Homo sapiens: one gene and its partners. The protein of the gene in region 2 interacts with the protein of the main gene of each other region in a biochemical or structural test. Each region holds a gene or a part of one and is shown on either strand. Other genes may lie near its edges.

Region 1 (4,021 bases), on a different chromosome or scaffold from region 2:
TTTAAGTTAACATCCTTATTACTTAAATAGGAGACACTTCATGTTCTACTCCTGAAAGCAGTGGTATTAGTTAAGTTTGGTTGTTGAGATTATGTTATGAAAGTGATGAAATCACTATAATTTATCATTTTAAACATACAAATTAATTTTTGCAACAGAATAACTCTCTAACTGTAATGTGAAAGGAAAATATTCAGAATTCCTTTCTCAGAGGTTTTGTTTTCAAATGGCCTATACTTGAATATTTTAAAAATCTAAGCTTTTATATGAAGCCCATGTAACTCTAGTAACCGTGAATTCCCCACCTACATTGCAATCAATGAATCTATATAAGCAAATGGACTGTCAGCATTGGGTTTCTATCTCAGTTAAAAGTAAAGGATCCTTCTTATTTTAGGAAATTAAAACAAGAATCAGGTATAGAACTTTTAATTACATGCTTAAAAGACTTGTTACATACATGTTACACTATTTTGAATATAACTGGAAAAGTTAATTTTTTCGTAATCATTGCTGGGTCTCTCTGTGTCACTCTTTTCTCTCTTTCTCTCTCTCTCTGATTGACCACAACATTTAATAGTTTATAATAAAATGTTATACACGTGAGAAATAGTAGAATAAATGTAAATTCAACACAATATTCTAATGTATAGATATAAAGTTGTTATCTATCTATCTATCTATCTAAACAGATTTTAACTAGAAAGACTTCCACCCAGTTACGGTTAAGTAGATTAATCTCAAATCAATTTCAAATATGGTTAAATAAATTTATCTCAATTGGGGCTACTATTCTTTATTTAGACATATGTCTATCAATAAATATAAAGGCAAATAACTTTGTTTAAGGATGTATAACAATATGGAAATTCAGCATAAAAGCATATTTCCTCTTTGAAAAATCTTTAATGAATATTGGAACCCTAACTTATTCTAATTCAATTTGATTCCTTTATAAGTTTTTAGCTAAACTGTACTAAACACAATCAGACCCCAGAGGGAAATAACATAGTAAACTTCAGTTAGGTTGGGTTTAGAATTCTATCCACAATTCTCCAGTCAATATCTAATTGTAAGCACACTGAAGAATTTCAACTCTGCAATTTGAAAAAAGAATCCATTAAAACACCAATGATATTAAGTTAGAGTATACTGCAAACTCTTTGACTGCTTTATTTAATAAAATAACAAGATAAAAATGAAGTCAATGGAAATTACTAGTCATAGACACTAAGTTGGTCCCCTCAAGAAAATTAGCAACATTAATAACTAACAACATTGACAAAAGTGCCCTTTAAGTGAAACTTCATAAAATAAAGCCACTTTCCTGTAATTTAAGCTTAAGAGGTAGAGACTGACAAAATACAAGTATTATTCCTTCATGTCTCTTGTCCATCAACACAAATTAAAAACAGCACTTCAATACAAACAATTCAATATGTGCTGAAATATAAAGACATGGATTATATGGTCTAAATTGATGAAAGTTATTCAAAAGCAGTCTCCTTTATAAAACCCAAATGGCATGAATTCCACAATATGAGATTGTGTGTAACTCTCTTACTCTAAAATTCTATTTTCTTTTTAGGAATAACAGATTAATGTAAATGTGAATTTTTCAAAAGAAAACTGATTGAGTAGCAAATATGTCTGAATTTGCCACCACATACTCTATCTGAAAAATGGAAAGAAGCCAGGTCATTTCGTTGCTACCCAGAGAGATGATCCTAGCACACCTGTCACCTGCTTGCCTGTCCTGGATCCAGTCTCCGGGAACCAGTTCAATTCCAGCATCCTAATACACACTGTCTGGTCTCCCTAGTTCAGCTTGCCCTCCCTGATAACGGCCCCTTTGGCAGAGCAGCTTATTCTTAATGCTAACAGTAGGTATCACTTACAGAACACTTGCTGACTGTTCAGTTCCCATCAAAGAAAGCCTTATGTGGCAGATCCTTTGATGATGCTTGTTTTACAGACAAACGTTTGGGGCTTAGGTTAAGAAACTTGAGAGGGGGCAAACTAATAAGTGGCAAAGCCGAGCTTTGAACCTACCACTCTTCTGCTTCAGAATTCATATCCTTAACTCATGCACTCCCATTTAATTATTTATGTTTATTATTTCATTGTTTGGTGAGCGCTTATATTGAAAATTCATTTTTTTTTTGGTGGGGGGCATGCTTTCTGTCACTTTGCAGAAACAAATAAAAGTTGAGCTGAACCCTCAATTAAGTTCTTTCCAGTGCGATGATTCAACACAATATTCTAACCATAAGGATACTCAGAGGAAGGAGTATGCCATCCAGAAGTCTAGTATCTTTGTAAGGCACGATTTTTGCCAGGCACAATTACAGGTGAAGGGCTCATTGAACTAAAGGGAGGAGGGGTCCTATGGTCACATTTACCTCCAAGCCCTTCTCTGCACCCTTTCCCTCCCTTCTTTCCCCTCTCTCCCTCCCACCCTACAAGCTTACCTTGGTTAGGAAAGCATATTCTGAGAAAATCAAAAGGAAAAGGCATGTGTGCGATTCAGGCTGCTATGACACACACACACTTAACTTTGTTGCCTATGGATTCTGCTTTCTAATAACTTGCCCTCAACATGACCCCAGGGAGTGGATTAGAAAGTTTTTTTCCCCATCCCCATTTTTTACCTGTTATTCACACTGTGAGCAGGAGGACCCTTTTCACCATCGTTGTTCGGCTGAACTTGCTTCGCGGTTTGTTCTCGGCTGGGTCAGGAACTCTGGTAGAGGGAAACCAGTGCCCTGTCTCTGCCGGGCTGGGACTCCGCGAGTCACTCACCTGTAGGGGAGGTCCGAGGCCCGCGCGGGCGCAGGGGCGGCGCCTGTCTCCTCCCAGAGCATGGCTCAGCTGGGCGCTTGCAGTGCCCCCGACGCGATCAGCGATCCTGGAGCCCCAGGAGCTGTTAATTATTTCTCCTTTTCGCCACAGCAGGGAAGTGTCAAGAAACCTGAGCCACTCCCTGTGCCTCAGTGCATGTTGGGAGTGTTTACTTTCTTAGGAACAGCTGATAGGTACACTCCTTTGCTCTCTGCCACACTTCTTGAGAAATGAATGGACATTCTAGTTAACGCTTTAACCACGGGATTTGACTGATGTTAATCTCTATTCTCTAGTCCACCCAGACTGTAGGTAATTGGCCTGTGAGAAATGACACCAACCAAGACTGAACGCCATTATTCACGTCTTTCTTTTTAAGATTTTTCTTTTCCAATTTGAGATTTGTTAACTTTCTTTTCCTTGTTATTTTGCTAACACATTTCCCTGCTAGCACTTTTTTTCACCCAGAGCAGCGTTTCGCGCTTCAGGGTGCACCAGGACCACCTATGTATTCTGCTAAACCCAGGTACCATCAACTGTGAGACTCTGATTTAGTAGGCCATGCATACACTTCGGGTATTTATATTTTTTATAAGCTCCACAGAAGAAACTGGTAGACATCAAAGTTTGAAAATGAACATAATGAAACAAAACAGAGGAGATAAATAATAATTTAGTCATTATCTACTGAATTGGATTTGGGGGCTTTGTTTTATCCAATATCTCCAATTTCAAAAGGACACCAAAAAGGCTTAGAAACTGTTAAATGACAGATGCTGTGGAAATATGAAGTACATTTACACACACACACACACACACACACACACAGATTTTTAAGGATCATTGTTATTTTACTGGTTTCCTATGTAAAGCAACTATTCATAATTTTTAAACATAATAGGTTATTTTACAAGTGTAAACCTGAGAGCCCTCAAAAGAAATTCAATCTGATTCCTGCAAAAAGTTCAGCAGGCAGAGTTAATTTCTAGTATCTTTCGTGTTCAAACGCCAGACAAACAGAATGACTCTAGATGTTCAGGTTGCATGTTTGTCATAGCACTTTAAGTAAGATCCTATATGTTCAAAAGGTGAGGCAGGCCAGGTGCAGTGACTCACGCCTGTAATCTCAGCACTTTGGGAGACCAAGGCTGGTGGATCACTTGAGCCCAGGAGTTCAAGA
Region 2 (5,189 bases):
AAATTGGCACACCTTAATCTCTCTTCACAAAATGCTAATTAAATACAAAGGAGAGGCCGGGCGCGGTGGCTCACGCCTATAATCCCAGTACTTTGGGAGGCCGAGGCAGGTGGATCACTTGAGGTCAGGAGTTCAAGACCAGCCTGGCCAACATGGTGAAACCCTGTCTCTACTAAAAATACAAAATATTCGCCGGCCATGGTGGTGGGCACCTGTAATCCCAGCTACTTGGGAGGCTGAGACAGGAGAATCGCTTGAACCTGGGAGGCGGAGGTTGCAGTGAGCCAAGACCACGCCATTGCACTCCAGCCTGGGCGACAAGAGCGGAACTCCATCTCTAAATAAATAAATAAATACAAAGGAGAAAACAATGAGGACATTAGCTTGACTACGCGACCGAAGGGAACACCCCTGGTGGTGGGATGCGTGGCCCTCGTGTGTCTCTCCACATGATACCCTGAAGAGAGCATGGCATCGTGGCATCTCTGCCAAGAGTGTGTGACACAGCCTGGTTGTGAGGCAACACCGAATAGAGCCAGCTGGAGAGCTGTGCTGAACAATCAAAGCCTTGTGCTGAGACTCAGGCACATGCGAATTAGAGTAAGGCCGAGGAACATTCCAGACTGAAGAACTGAGACACGACGACAAAAGGCAAGAAAGTGGTATTGGCCAGGATCCAAGGCCAGAGAGGAAAACAGGACATGGCCGGGATGGCTGGCATCATTTGAATGGGGTCTATGGAATGAGTGGTGGTGTGCCAATGTTGATTTCTTGATTAGGAGGACTTTATGGTGGCAATGCAAGGACTGTCCTTATGTTTTGGAGGTCCTCACTAGAGAATTTAAGGGTGCTAGAGAATCATATTAGAGAAAGACAAGGTAATGGAATAAATATGGCAAAATGTTAACAACTGGAAGGTTTGGGTGAAGAAGATTTGTATTGTTTTTGTAACTTTCCTGTAGGTTCAAAACTATTTCAGCATTTTAAAAATTGGAAAAAAAAAACAACCCACGTGACTAAAGCAACTTTTTTATTTACAGTATAAAGGTTACAAAGGTATATATGTATTTATATATATAATACCCTTAAGTTACACATTTTCATTGTAATGTACAATGCTGTATGTTGATGTGCTACTCAAGGGGAAGTGTTGTTTATGCATCTATATTTATAGAGTATACATAAAGCTTTTTAAAATTAGGAACACAAATACTGCCCTGTTTTACGCGTTGGGTTTTTGATTTGGTATCCAGAAGATCTGAGACTTAAATTTCAAACAAGACTTAAAAAGAAGGCTTGTTTAAATACAGGGTTCTAAAAAGAAGGAAAAAACCCAGAACATCACATACTTTTAATTATTTGTAAAAGCATTATTCTAGTTTTCTAAGTCTTTATACTTAAAAATGAAAGCAGTGTGGAAAAGAATCCACATAAGCAGGTATCATCAGAGTTTGCACAGATTAGCCAAAACAGGCCTTCAATAGGTAGTGGTTTTCTACATTATCTTCCAAAAGACCTCAGGTTTGGTACCAAAAAGGACAGATTTTTCTGGGCACCAAGGTCTTATAATGCTGCACTCATCCAATGGATTGTAAACATAATACTGGAGTCGTATAGTGGAGGGAAAATTCTGAAACTTGTTCTTACGATAAGGGCAGATTTGCGACAAAGTGAGAATATCATCGAGAATGATGATCATGCCAAACCTGAAACTTAATTGACATCATCATTTCCTCTCCCCCCAATTCTATTAATTCACAAATCGAGGTGAAAAGACACAACTGACACCCGCTTTAACAGGACCCAGATAGAAGGAAAGACATTTCTTCCAACCTAGGAGGAACACACATTTACAATACTTATGTGCTGGTTTTAATAGTATACAATCATTAGCACCTGATTGTCAAAGGGTAGGTTTAAAGAACAAGACACTGAAGGCATGACCTAATTTTTGTGCACAACTCCAAGATACTTGAAAACCAAGGGGAGGGCACCCATGTGATTCGGTTTCCTGTGCCATTCCAATCACTGATAGCTCAGGTACTTTCTGGGCAATGACCAAGGATGTTGCCTGAAAAGCTAACCCTAGAGATAAATGGAAGGCAAGCTGGATAGAAAGGGACTGTTATTGTGTGAAAATTATGGAAAACATTCAGTCAGCCTTATTTTCTTTAGGTGCCCTTTTCATTGAGTCCAAATGCCAGCGTGTCCTGGAATAAGTGAAATTTTGTTAATTTTTATTTTTTAAATGTTAAAAGTTTTTTTTTTTTTTTTAATTTTTTAAATGGAGTCGGGGTCCCGCTGTGTTGCCCAGGCTGGTCTGGACCTCCTGGGCTAAAGTGATCCTCCTGCCTTGGCCTGATTTTGTTAATTTTTAAATATCTTCATTTTGATCTATCATTAATGGAGAAATATTCCGTCTACCATGTATATAAGGACTTTCAGCAGATGAAATGCTTAAATAGTTTAAGGGTGGAAATGAATACAGCAATTAGAAATAAGGGGTTGATAAAATATGCATTTAGTTTTGCTGTTACAGTTAAAGAAGCATTTTTTAAGAAAGACTTTCTCATTTATCTACTTTGTGCAATAAAACTTAATTTTTGTTGTTGTGATTTATCTTACAAAGGATACTGTATACTGTTCTCTTTCCCAAACTAAAGTCTAAATTTGCACTAAAAAAAAAATCATGCATGATGAAAAGACCAGCCTACTTAAATGTGCTTGGAGTCCTTTCATGTTGGCATGGATCAAAGCCTGAGTATCCCTTCAAACATTTTCCAGTTTGCCAGATCCAGATAAACAGACTTGTAAATATACTTTGGTAAAAATATGAAGTGATGAATTACTTAACTGCTGAATGATAAACAGATGGCATGGTGTGCTGAGAAATAACGGATTATGTGCTACTAGAGGGCAGGAACTTTCTTTTGGACCCTTCAGAATGCCTGGTGTAGAACTATACATTAATAAATGTTTATTAGATGAAAGAACACATGAATATGTCATTAATTAGCTTTCCAGTTTCAAAATTAGTGTCAATAGCATGGACGTAAGATTATTGCAAACTGAGAAAGGGACTTAGGGGACTCAGAAATTATAAATCTTTTTCTTCTTTTTCTTTTTTTGGAGATGAAGTCTCGCTCTGTTGCCCAGGCTGGAGTGCAATGGCATGATCTCAGCTCACTGCAACTTCTGCCTCCTGGGTTCAAGGGATTCTCCCACCTCAGCCTCCCGAGTAGCTGGGACCACAGGCGCGCACCACCATGCCCAGCTAACTTTTTGTATTTTTAGTAGAGATGGGGTTTCACCATGTTGGCCAGGCTGGTCTCAAACTCCTTACCTCAGGTGATCCACCCACCTTGGGCTCCCAAAGTACTGGGAATACAGGCATGAGCCACCGCACCCGGCCAGAAATTATAAATCTAACCAGGATTCCCAAACCTACAATACAATGAAATATCATTTCTCTCTTATAGGTTTTTGGTTTTAACCAATCTATTTTAAAAGGGGCAATTCAAGGATTATGGTTTATATGGTGGATTTCTGTTGAATATGATCAAATGTTCACTGGAGAACAAGCAATAATTTGCAAAAGGCATATTTATGCCTTACATTAAATGTGGATCCTCTTCTAAAACTAGAATAAGCATCAGTTCAGTCACCCAACGTGGGAAGAAAGAATAGAGGTGGCAAGAAATGAAGCTCAAGTTTGTTTTGAAACAAAAGAAGAAACTTATTAAAAGATTCTTCTGAGTTACTACATAACAACCATTCTTCTAGTTGGCAGTTTAGCTAGTCAGAGAGACAAAAAAAAACAAAACCAAAACCAAAAACAAAAACAGATGTCCTCTATGTGCCTATTTATTGTGCCTTATCCTTAACTTGAAATTCTATCCTTTAAGAGAATGAATTTGTGTCACTCATCTGCCAGATGTTTTTGTTTTTTTAGAGAAAGGTTTCAAATCAGCCACTTAAGCAGTCTATTACTAGTGTAAAATAAATTCCATTTAACATCACAGCATAGGAATAATGATATTGCTCAAAAATACAGAACCCTGATATATAGCATAATTATTTTAGAACTATCATCACACATTTATCGAGTGTCTATGTATCCAGCACAGTGAAAGATTTAGCTTAAAGGGTGGAGGCGGGCAGATTGCTACAATTGGTTTTTAAAGACAGTATGTGGAAAGTCAGAATAATTTTAGATTACCAAGCAATTAGGGGGCACAGAGAAAGAACAGCAGGAGATGGCAGACTGCTCTACTTCCATCTTCAGTGGGGTTAAAAAAAAAAAAAAGCCACAATAACAACAGAAATTTAACTGAAAGTGATGTCCAAACTCAAAGTAGAGTATAATACCACCTGGTAATTAATGTCATACCTGACAGAGATATATAAAAAGAATGAATGACTACAGTCAAATTCAACTTAAAGTTTAAGCAGAATCCCAAATTTAAGTAAGTCTCTTTTCATTACATAGATATTTGATCTGATCAGAGCAATTTGCTTTGAGACCAAAGAGATCTGGCATTTTACTTATTCATTAGGAATTGAAAAAAGAAGACCTTTGGCTTTCTAACCAGCCATTTCATTCATGGCATCAACAGCCGATGGCAGCCACATGGAAATGTATGCTGGATATTTGGATAGTTTAAATATTATGTACAAGGAATAGCTTATAACCAGTGAAAATAATAAGAACATAATTCAGCATAAGTGTCCAAGATAAGATACAAAAAAGCAGAGAAAGTGCTTGAGTCTACAGGTCTTCCCTGAAAGTTTCAAAAATGTTTAATTCTTAAGCAGGTAGGCCTTTTAATAGAATTTGCATAGCAGCATACAAGGTAATTTGCATTAAAATATATGAACAGAGATTCTTCCATGGCTTTGAAAACAAATATATCCACATGCATATAAGTTAAGCAAGAAGACCTGGAATTTCTCACAAAATTAAAAAAAAGAATCTATTATAACCTTTTCTCACACTTTCGCCCATCAAAACCATTTACAGCAAAACCTGTTTCTAGGAGAAACATAGCCTTGTCCAGATTCCACACAGCTTAATTTTTTTTTTAAGCATAATTTCTGGGGCCAGGTGCAGTGGCTCACATCTGTAATCCCAGCACTTTGGGAGGCTGAGGCAGAAGGACTGCTTGAGTGCCAAGAGTTCAAGACCAGCC
Region 3 (3,500 bases), on a different chromosome or scaffold from region 2:
ATGTTGTGGGAGGGACCCGGTGGGAGGTAATTGAATCATGGGGGCAGGTCTTTCCTGTGGTGTTCTCATGATAGTGAATAAGTATCATGAGATCTGATGGTTTTATAAGGGGAAGTTTCCCTGCACAAACTCTCTTTGCCTGCTGCCATCCATATAAGATGTGACTTGCTCCTCCTTGCCTGCCATCATGAGTCTGAGGCCTCCCCATCCATGTGGAACTTTAAGTCCATTAAACCTCTCTTTCTTCTGTAAATTGCCTAGTCTTGGGTATACCTTTATCAGCAGTGTGAAAACAGACTAATACAGGACCAAAGGATGGAGGAGGAGAAAGGCTGGAACAGAAGCTGCAGCAGTGGAGGGGAAGAGAAGGACTTGAGAAATGCAACAAAGTAAAAATCGACAGAATTAGACATAGGAGTGTTGGTGACACAAAGCCAGAGTTGACTTCCTGGAAAAATCCATGAGTAATTAGGTATCAAACAGAGTATCCTGGGTCACGTTAAGCTCCAGCCCTGAGGCCCGGGGCCCACCAACCACAGTAAAGCAGTTCACAGCAGGAAGAATGTTGGTATCCACATTCCATGGTTAGTTTCCAAGACAGGTTAACCTACGTATCACTGATCCCCTTCACACATCCACAAGGAAGACAACAAGCAGACATAGCACTAAATCTTCTGAAATTGAGAAGAGGCAAGATGCTTTAAACAAACCTTTTCTTGTGATTTAATGAGTGCTGTCAGATGCTTCAGTACCAGAGGCCCACCTGGACTGTACATGAAGTTCACATTGTCAAAGATTATCACTCCTTCATGGGGCCAGGCTGGTGGTGGGCGTTTCTGATATTCCCAAGGTGCTTCTTTTTCAAGGTCTGTGTATTCAATGACCCTTTCTACTGAGATCATCTGAAAGAAATATGACATCCCGAGGGGTTAGGAATGGAGGGTGTCATTTATGGATGTTAAGAGACTGTCAATGAAATGTTCTTCTTTCATACATAGTTGGTTAAGGAGAGAAGCAGGAGACAGACGAGGATGTTGATGACTTACAAATTTGGTTCATCATTGTGTAACACCTTCACTTACAACCACTTCCTTCAACATTAGGTTAAAAGAATGAGAGAAATGAATGCTTAGATTTTATTTATCCACTTCTCACACCTGTATTAAAGGCAAGAAAATTTTGTAAAGGAAAGGAATACTTAGAGCCACCAATCAAGAATCTTTTGCTGGCTGGGCGCGGTGGCTCATGCCTATAATCCCAGCACTTTGGGAGGCCGGGGCAGGTGGATCACCTAAGGTCAGGTGTTTGACACCAGCCTGGTCAACATGGTGAAACCCCATTTCTACTAAAAATACAAAAATTAGCTGGGCGTGGTGCTGCATGCCTGTAATCCCAGCTACTCAGGAGGCTGAGGCAGGAAAATCGCTTGAACCCGGGAGGCGGAGGTTGCAGTGAGCCAAGATCGCACTATTGCACTCCAGCCTGGGGTACAAGAGCAAAACTCTGTCCCCTCACCCCTACCCCCCAAAAAAGAATCTTTTGCTATAGAAGGATCACCTGATATAGGTCAGTTAAACTGGATGATCGTGAAACCTCACTGTAATAATTACTCAACTTTTGCTCTATGAGAAGAATGAAAAGATTTTTATGTTTATTGCTTTTCTCTCTTTAGGGGAAGGTGCAAATATTTAAAACATTGATTAAAGCCTCCTATACCACCATAAACTAATACCCTTTGACTAGCACATTCCAAGAGGAGGCTTTCTGTACCAAGAAGGCACACCAGCAAAGTTAAGGCCTTCCTCCCTTCTGTTCTTCACATAAGAGAGTAAACGCTAGAACTGGGAGAGGAGGAGACCTATTAATTAAATGTAAACAACCTCAAAATACTGAAGTCTTCTTTTAACAGGAATGAGGAATTACCCGTTAAGAAACAAAATTAAACAGGCTTCTAAGAAATTAGCTTATATCCTCTCTAGAATTTCAGAACCTCCCTCCTACAGAGACATTTATTACATCTGAAAAAGCTTGTGATGAATATAAAACCTGCTGACAGAGCAACCATAAGACTCAGAAAAAGATGTATATATTTTATTTTACATTAACTTTAAACAGATGGAGGAAGGATCTTAAAAAAAATCTGTTACCAAAGATGTAAAAATAACAGTTTTAATATTTCACATAAGAATGGCTTTTATACCATTTAATGGCAAGGAGATTGAAAAGGCAAAGAACGTGAAGGTAAATATTACCATATTCTCAACTTCAGCACTTTGTCGAACACACCACTGAAACATCCCCATGAGCGTGAGGGCATAGGACAGTGCCAAACCAACCTGCCCGGCATCCAGAGCTACGTAAGGAGGAAGAAGGGAATAAAGTCAGTCTCACTTCAAACCTAAGCCTGGCTCCTTCTGCCACTTACCAAGAGGAACCCTTCATAATGTTGAAACAATTCACATTTAATGACATTAATAGCTATACTTTTACCATTTGTTGCTTGAGATCAAGATACAATGGGGAAAACAACACTGTATATTTAGAAAAATTTTTAGATGATTTTATGAATTCCAACAGGATCGACATAGATTTAATTAACAGTATTACAAACGCAAGAAATAATGTCATTATTCAGACATTCATTATTATGGTTTCAAAGCTCATTACATTATTCCACTTTCTACGTGCAATGCAACCACAGCTGGAAACCACTAAAAACAAAGCAATAGGTTGTAAGTGCCAATGCTTTTGAGACTAAAATACTACTCTCCTTGTTCCATTATTAAGTATTGTAATGCACTGTTGTTACTGGGGTGGTGAACTCATGCCCTGCTTGTCTGGTACCCATGTGGCATTGAAGATAATACTCTCCTGCTGAGAATTTTTCTCAACCTCATGCACCAGGCAACTACAAACAATAGATTCAAGTAGTTGGAAGGCTAACACCCTAAGTTGGACAAAATGCTTCAGAATAAATTGGTTTTCTCTTCACAACTACCAGACACTAACAGGAATGTTCAGAATCTCAACTGCGCATATCTCAACCCATTCAAAGAAAGATAAACCCATCAAGACCCAAATGACTCCTTAAATGAGTCACACTGCTGAATCCTACCCAACCTGACACATCGTAAATGATTTAATACACTTCATTAGGACCAAACAGTATGTAGTAGTAGACAAGGTGGCAAGAGTTTAATAAATGTAAACACAGCTATAAATTGTAATCATACCATACATAGTTATTCACATCTGTACTTACTTTTTGCCAGAATCAGGGACCCAAAGGCAACGATGATGACAAACATGGCACAGATGGCATCCAGACGGACGGCAAACCAGCGGGACGTTGTCAAAAACAAGAACCAAGCCTCTGAATTTGAGAACGGTAATAAGCATGATGAATAAGTAGATGAATGTGCGAGTGTGTTTTGCTCAGTTGAGCTACAGAAGATTTTTACGTGGAGTAGGGCACCAAAGTTGCACACCCAAGGAACCTT
Region 4 (3,500 bases), on a different chromosome or scaffold from region 2:
CATGTTGACAGAAATGATCCAACTCTCTTAGAGGGAAACAGGCAGGTGCTGAAATACTCCAGAAAAGGAGCCAGAATTAGTAATGGTAGGCTGCTGATGGCATTCATTACTGCAATCGGCAGAAGAAATCCATCCAAATTCAGGTTGGAATTCATAGTTTGCAGATAATATCCTGAAGGAATCTGTATTCGAGAGGGAAACATCCATGCATTAAGACAGGGGTTTAACTTTGAAGAAAGCATCGTCCACCAGAGGCCTACCCTCTTGCACGTACTCTGTGATGGATGAGCTGGATGTTGCCTAGTTTTTCAAGTTCCCAGTTATGAGCTGATAAAGGGTCTTCATCTGTGGTGGTAGGAGCTCTGTCTAGTCTATTGACAATAGTACTCATTACTCATGAAATACTCTATCATCATTTAGTCTCTCTTAATTTTTCTATGAAAAGTAATGATGGCCCCAATTTTGTGCTTAAGATGACACATAAAAAGCCAAATAACTTAAATTCTGTAGATAAGCAAAATGACTTTTCTTCATGAACACTAATATAAAACCAGTAAAAAATACTAAAGACGTCTGTTTTTACCCTGATGAAAAAAATGAGGCTAGAATAGATTCTTTAAAAAGCATCTAGTTTGGTGGCAATATAGAAACGACTTTTTCCTAAGAAGAGGGGCCCAATGTGGACACGTGTTAATTGCTGTAGGCTGTCTTTGAGGGGGCTATTTAGAGAGGCTTTGTTTCCAATGTGAACTAAGTAACAGGGGGAGGAAAAAAAAACCTTGTGTCTTTGCCCTCCCTTCAAACTAATTACGTGATGCTAGAATTCCATAAAGGAAACAACATGAAAAAGGTTTGCATGATAAAGTGAAAGATACAATTTTTTTAAAAAAAAACCCTGTGCTCCACCCCAAATCCTCAATGTATTGTTAGAATTTCTTCATTTTAAAAATAACCCCAATGCTAACTAAAACTCTAACACTGATTTGGAGCCTCTTAGTGTATTCCAATCCTCTTGGCAACCGAGTGTGATATCAGAACCAAGGGATGATGTCACATGAAAGAGGTGTCTCTTCACTTTTCTAGTACATGAGCTTTGTTACAGCTTCATCAGCTTCATCATGATCTTTTTTATTTTTATTTTTTTTGAGACAGAGTCTCGCTCTGTCACCCAGGCTGGAGTGCAGTGGTGTGATCTCGGCTCACGGCAAGCTCCACCTCCCAGGTTCACGCCATTCTCCTGCCTCAGCCTTCCGAGTAGCTGAGACTACAGGCGCCCGCCACCACGCCTGGCTAATTTTTCTGTATTTTTAGTAGAGATGAGGTTTCACCGTGTTAGTCAGGATGGTCTCGATCTCCTGACCTCGTGATCTGCCTGCCTCAGCCTCTCAAAGTGCTGGGATTACAGGTGTGAGCCACCGTGCCCGGCCCATCATGATCTTTAGTAGCGCATAGTATTTCTTTAATTCCCAGTGGTACACAAAGCTATTGAGTGTCATAGACAGAAAGTCAACCAAGTCTTCTTGAGGAATGGATCCTCCAAACTCGTATGGTACAAGAGCTGCATTAGGATCCCTGCTTCACCACCATCCTGGGAGAGCAGCCTCGCTCAAATATCCAGATGATAACTTCTCATTTGAAACATTTGCTAACCCCTTCTCTAGACTCAATTGTACAATTCAAGAGGGTATATATGGAGAATCAGTATTATGGTGTCAGTACAGCTGTTACCAAGTCCACTAATTGTAAAATGAGCCTATTGCCATGTTAACTGCGCAAACACAGGACAAGACCACATTTTCACTGAGATTCTTTCTGTAGACAACGTGTCCTGGTGATCATTTATCTCCCAATCTTTAATTTGACCCTTAGCATAGTAAACAAGGATTGTTTTGGCTGAGTACAGATGGCAAGAGTTAAAGGAACATTAGTTAGTTCTGCCCTACTTCAATAAAATTATTAAGCATGGATCCCCCATCGGAGGAAAATGAATGATGTGTTTTAACAAAAAGTGCTGGCAGCGGAACAACTCTAAGACTGAAAGGCTCCCAGCACAACTTGGAAGTTTCTGTTACTGATTTCAAATGAGAATTATTGTTAATAGGAATAAAGTTATTATCGGCATGAATCACAGACACAGAAATATGTTAACTTAATAATGTGGCAAATGTACTATTAATCTTTAGTGAAGCAATATTAATATATTGCCTAATCTTAGAAAAGGCTGCAGTGTCTTGAAAGCTTGAAATCATTTCTGCCTCTGCCTGAAGTTCTGAAATCATCGCCCTGTAAAATTTTAAATACTTTTATTTCATCCAAGCCTTTGAGTATTCAGAAATAATTGCTGTCAATAGAGATTCATTCTCACCTTTGACTGGCCAGTAATGTCAAATGGCAACCTCATCAGCCGTAATATCAACATATTTTAGATGTATGTCTTGCAACTGAAGGTCAATAATGGCTACTAAATTTAAAATATGTATGAAATTCTATGATGTTTTATTCTTGGTACTTTGATTGCCTTTGTACTGGTGATTATTTCATCTGGGGGCAAAAAACTAAACCCAGCCTATCCTATTGGAAATTCCTCTGCCTCCCTGGTGAAGTATGATCTAAGCATTTTCTTTGAAGTTTCTAGCATAACATTACTGTATATAATTTTGGAATCTATGTAGTTTGTATCAGGGACTTTTAACCCAATGCAAGAGTGATATTGAGGATAATAAAGCATGGCGCTTGACACTAATCCTGAGGTGGGATGTTGCTCTGCCACACATTAGCAAGGTGACTGGGAACAAGTTGCAACTTAGTTTCTGAGCCTCAGATTTAGGAGAGTAATAGCCATGTAGCCTTGCTGTGGGGATTAAATTACGTACTGTGAAGCCATCTTTTAGAAGCTATGGCACTTAATAGGTGATCAGTAACTATTAGTTTCTGTGCTTTGCAATAAGTTGCACATCTAGATTTGGTGATATGCTTAAAAATTAGTTTATCAAAATTTATTGTAATTTATGTTCAATTAAAAAATATATGACAGTGTGCAAAGAAGGGTCCAACTTAGTGGAAAGAAATGTCAGGTGTCATTGCATTATGAAGGTAAGGAACTGGTATTCTGTGCTACTTGCACATAAGCTTTTGAGGTTAGCTATGGGCCATGTAGTAATTTTGTACTGTTTATCGGTTCCTCCAATCTAAGATGTTTTATTATATTAATGCTTACATATATGGGTAATATTTCTGCTGTATTCTGTTTTTGTGCCTACTGCTATTATAGAGTCAAGAGGGAGTTTGAATCTTCTAAATCAGACTAGCTTTCATGCATTATTTAGTCTAGAGGTCAAGAAATTTTCTGTAAAGGGCCAGATAGTAAATATGTCCACATATGGGTTCCGTGGCAATTACTCAACTCTGCTATTTTTGTGCATAAGCAGACATAGATACGACAAAACAAAGAGCATGGCTATGTTCTGATAAAACTTCATTTATGGACGCTAAAATTTAAA

What was found. The genes of interacting proteins can lie anywhere in the genome.
Region 1: the proteins of SNTB2 (region 2) and RASSF6 interact in a test that uses a peptide from one of them, tested with the Homo sapiens proteins (one large-scale study listed by IntAct).
Region 3: the proteins of SNTB2 (region 2) and ABCC4 interact in a test that uses a peptide from one of them, tested with the Homo sapiens proteins (one large-scale study listed by IntAct).
Region 4: the proteins of SNTB2 (region 2) and SLC15A5 interact in a test that uses a peptide from one of them, tested with the Homo sapiens proteins (one large-scale study listed by IntAct).

The regions. Positions count from the first base shown.
Region 1 is NC_000004.12:73,617,637-73,621,657, forward strand, and holds the start of RASSF6 (ras association domain-containing protein 6), read right to left. Parts: upstream 2,801-4,021; 5' UTR 2,652-2,800; intron 1-2,651.
Region 2 is NC_000016.10:69,304,877-69,310,065, reverse strand, and holds the end of SNTB2 (beta-2-syntrophin), read right to left. Parts: 3' UTR 1,014-5,189; downstream 1-1,013. UniProt on the Homo sapiens protein: Adapter protein that binds to and probably organizes the subcellular localization of a variety of membrane proteins. May link various receptors to the actin cytoskeleton and the dystrophin glycoprotein complex.
Region 3 is NC_000013.11:95,070,952-95,074,451, forward strand, and holds part of ABCC4 (ATP-binding cassette sub-family C member 4), read right to left. Parts: intron 3,374-3,500; coding exon 3,263-3,373; intron 2,354-3,262; coding exon 2,253-2,353; intron 903-2,252; coding exon 711-902; intron 1-710. UniProt on the Homo sapiens protein: ATP-dependent transporter of the ATP-binding cassette (ABC) family that actively extrudes physiological compounds and xenobiotics from cells.
Region 4 is NC_000012.12:16,239,686-16,243,185, forward strand, and holds part of SLC15A5 (solute carrier family 15 member 5), read right to left. Parts: intron 183-3,500; coding exon 1-182. UniProt on the Homo sapiens protein: Proton oligopeptide cotransporter.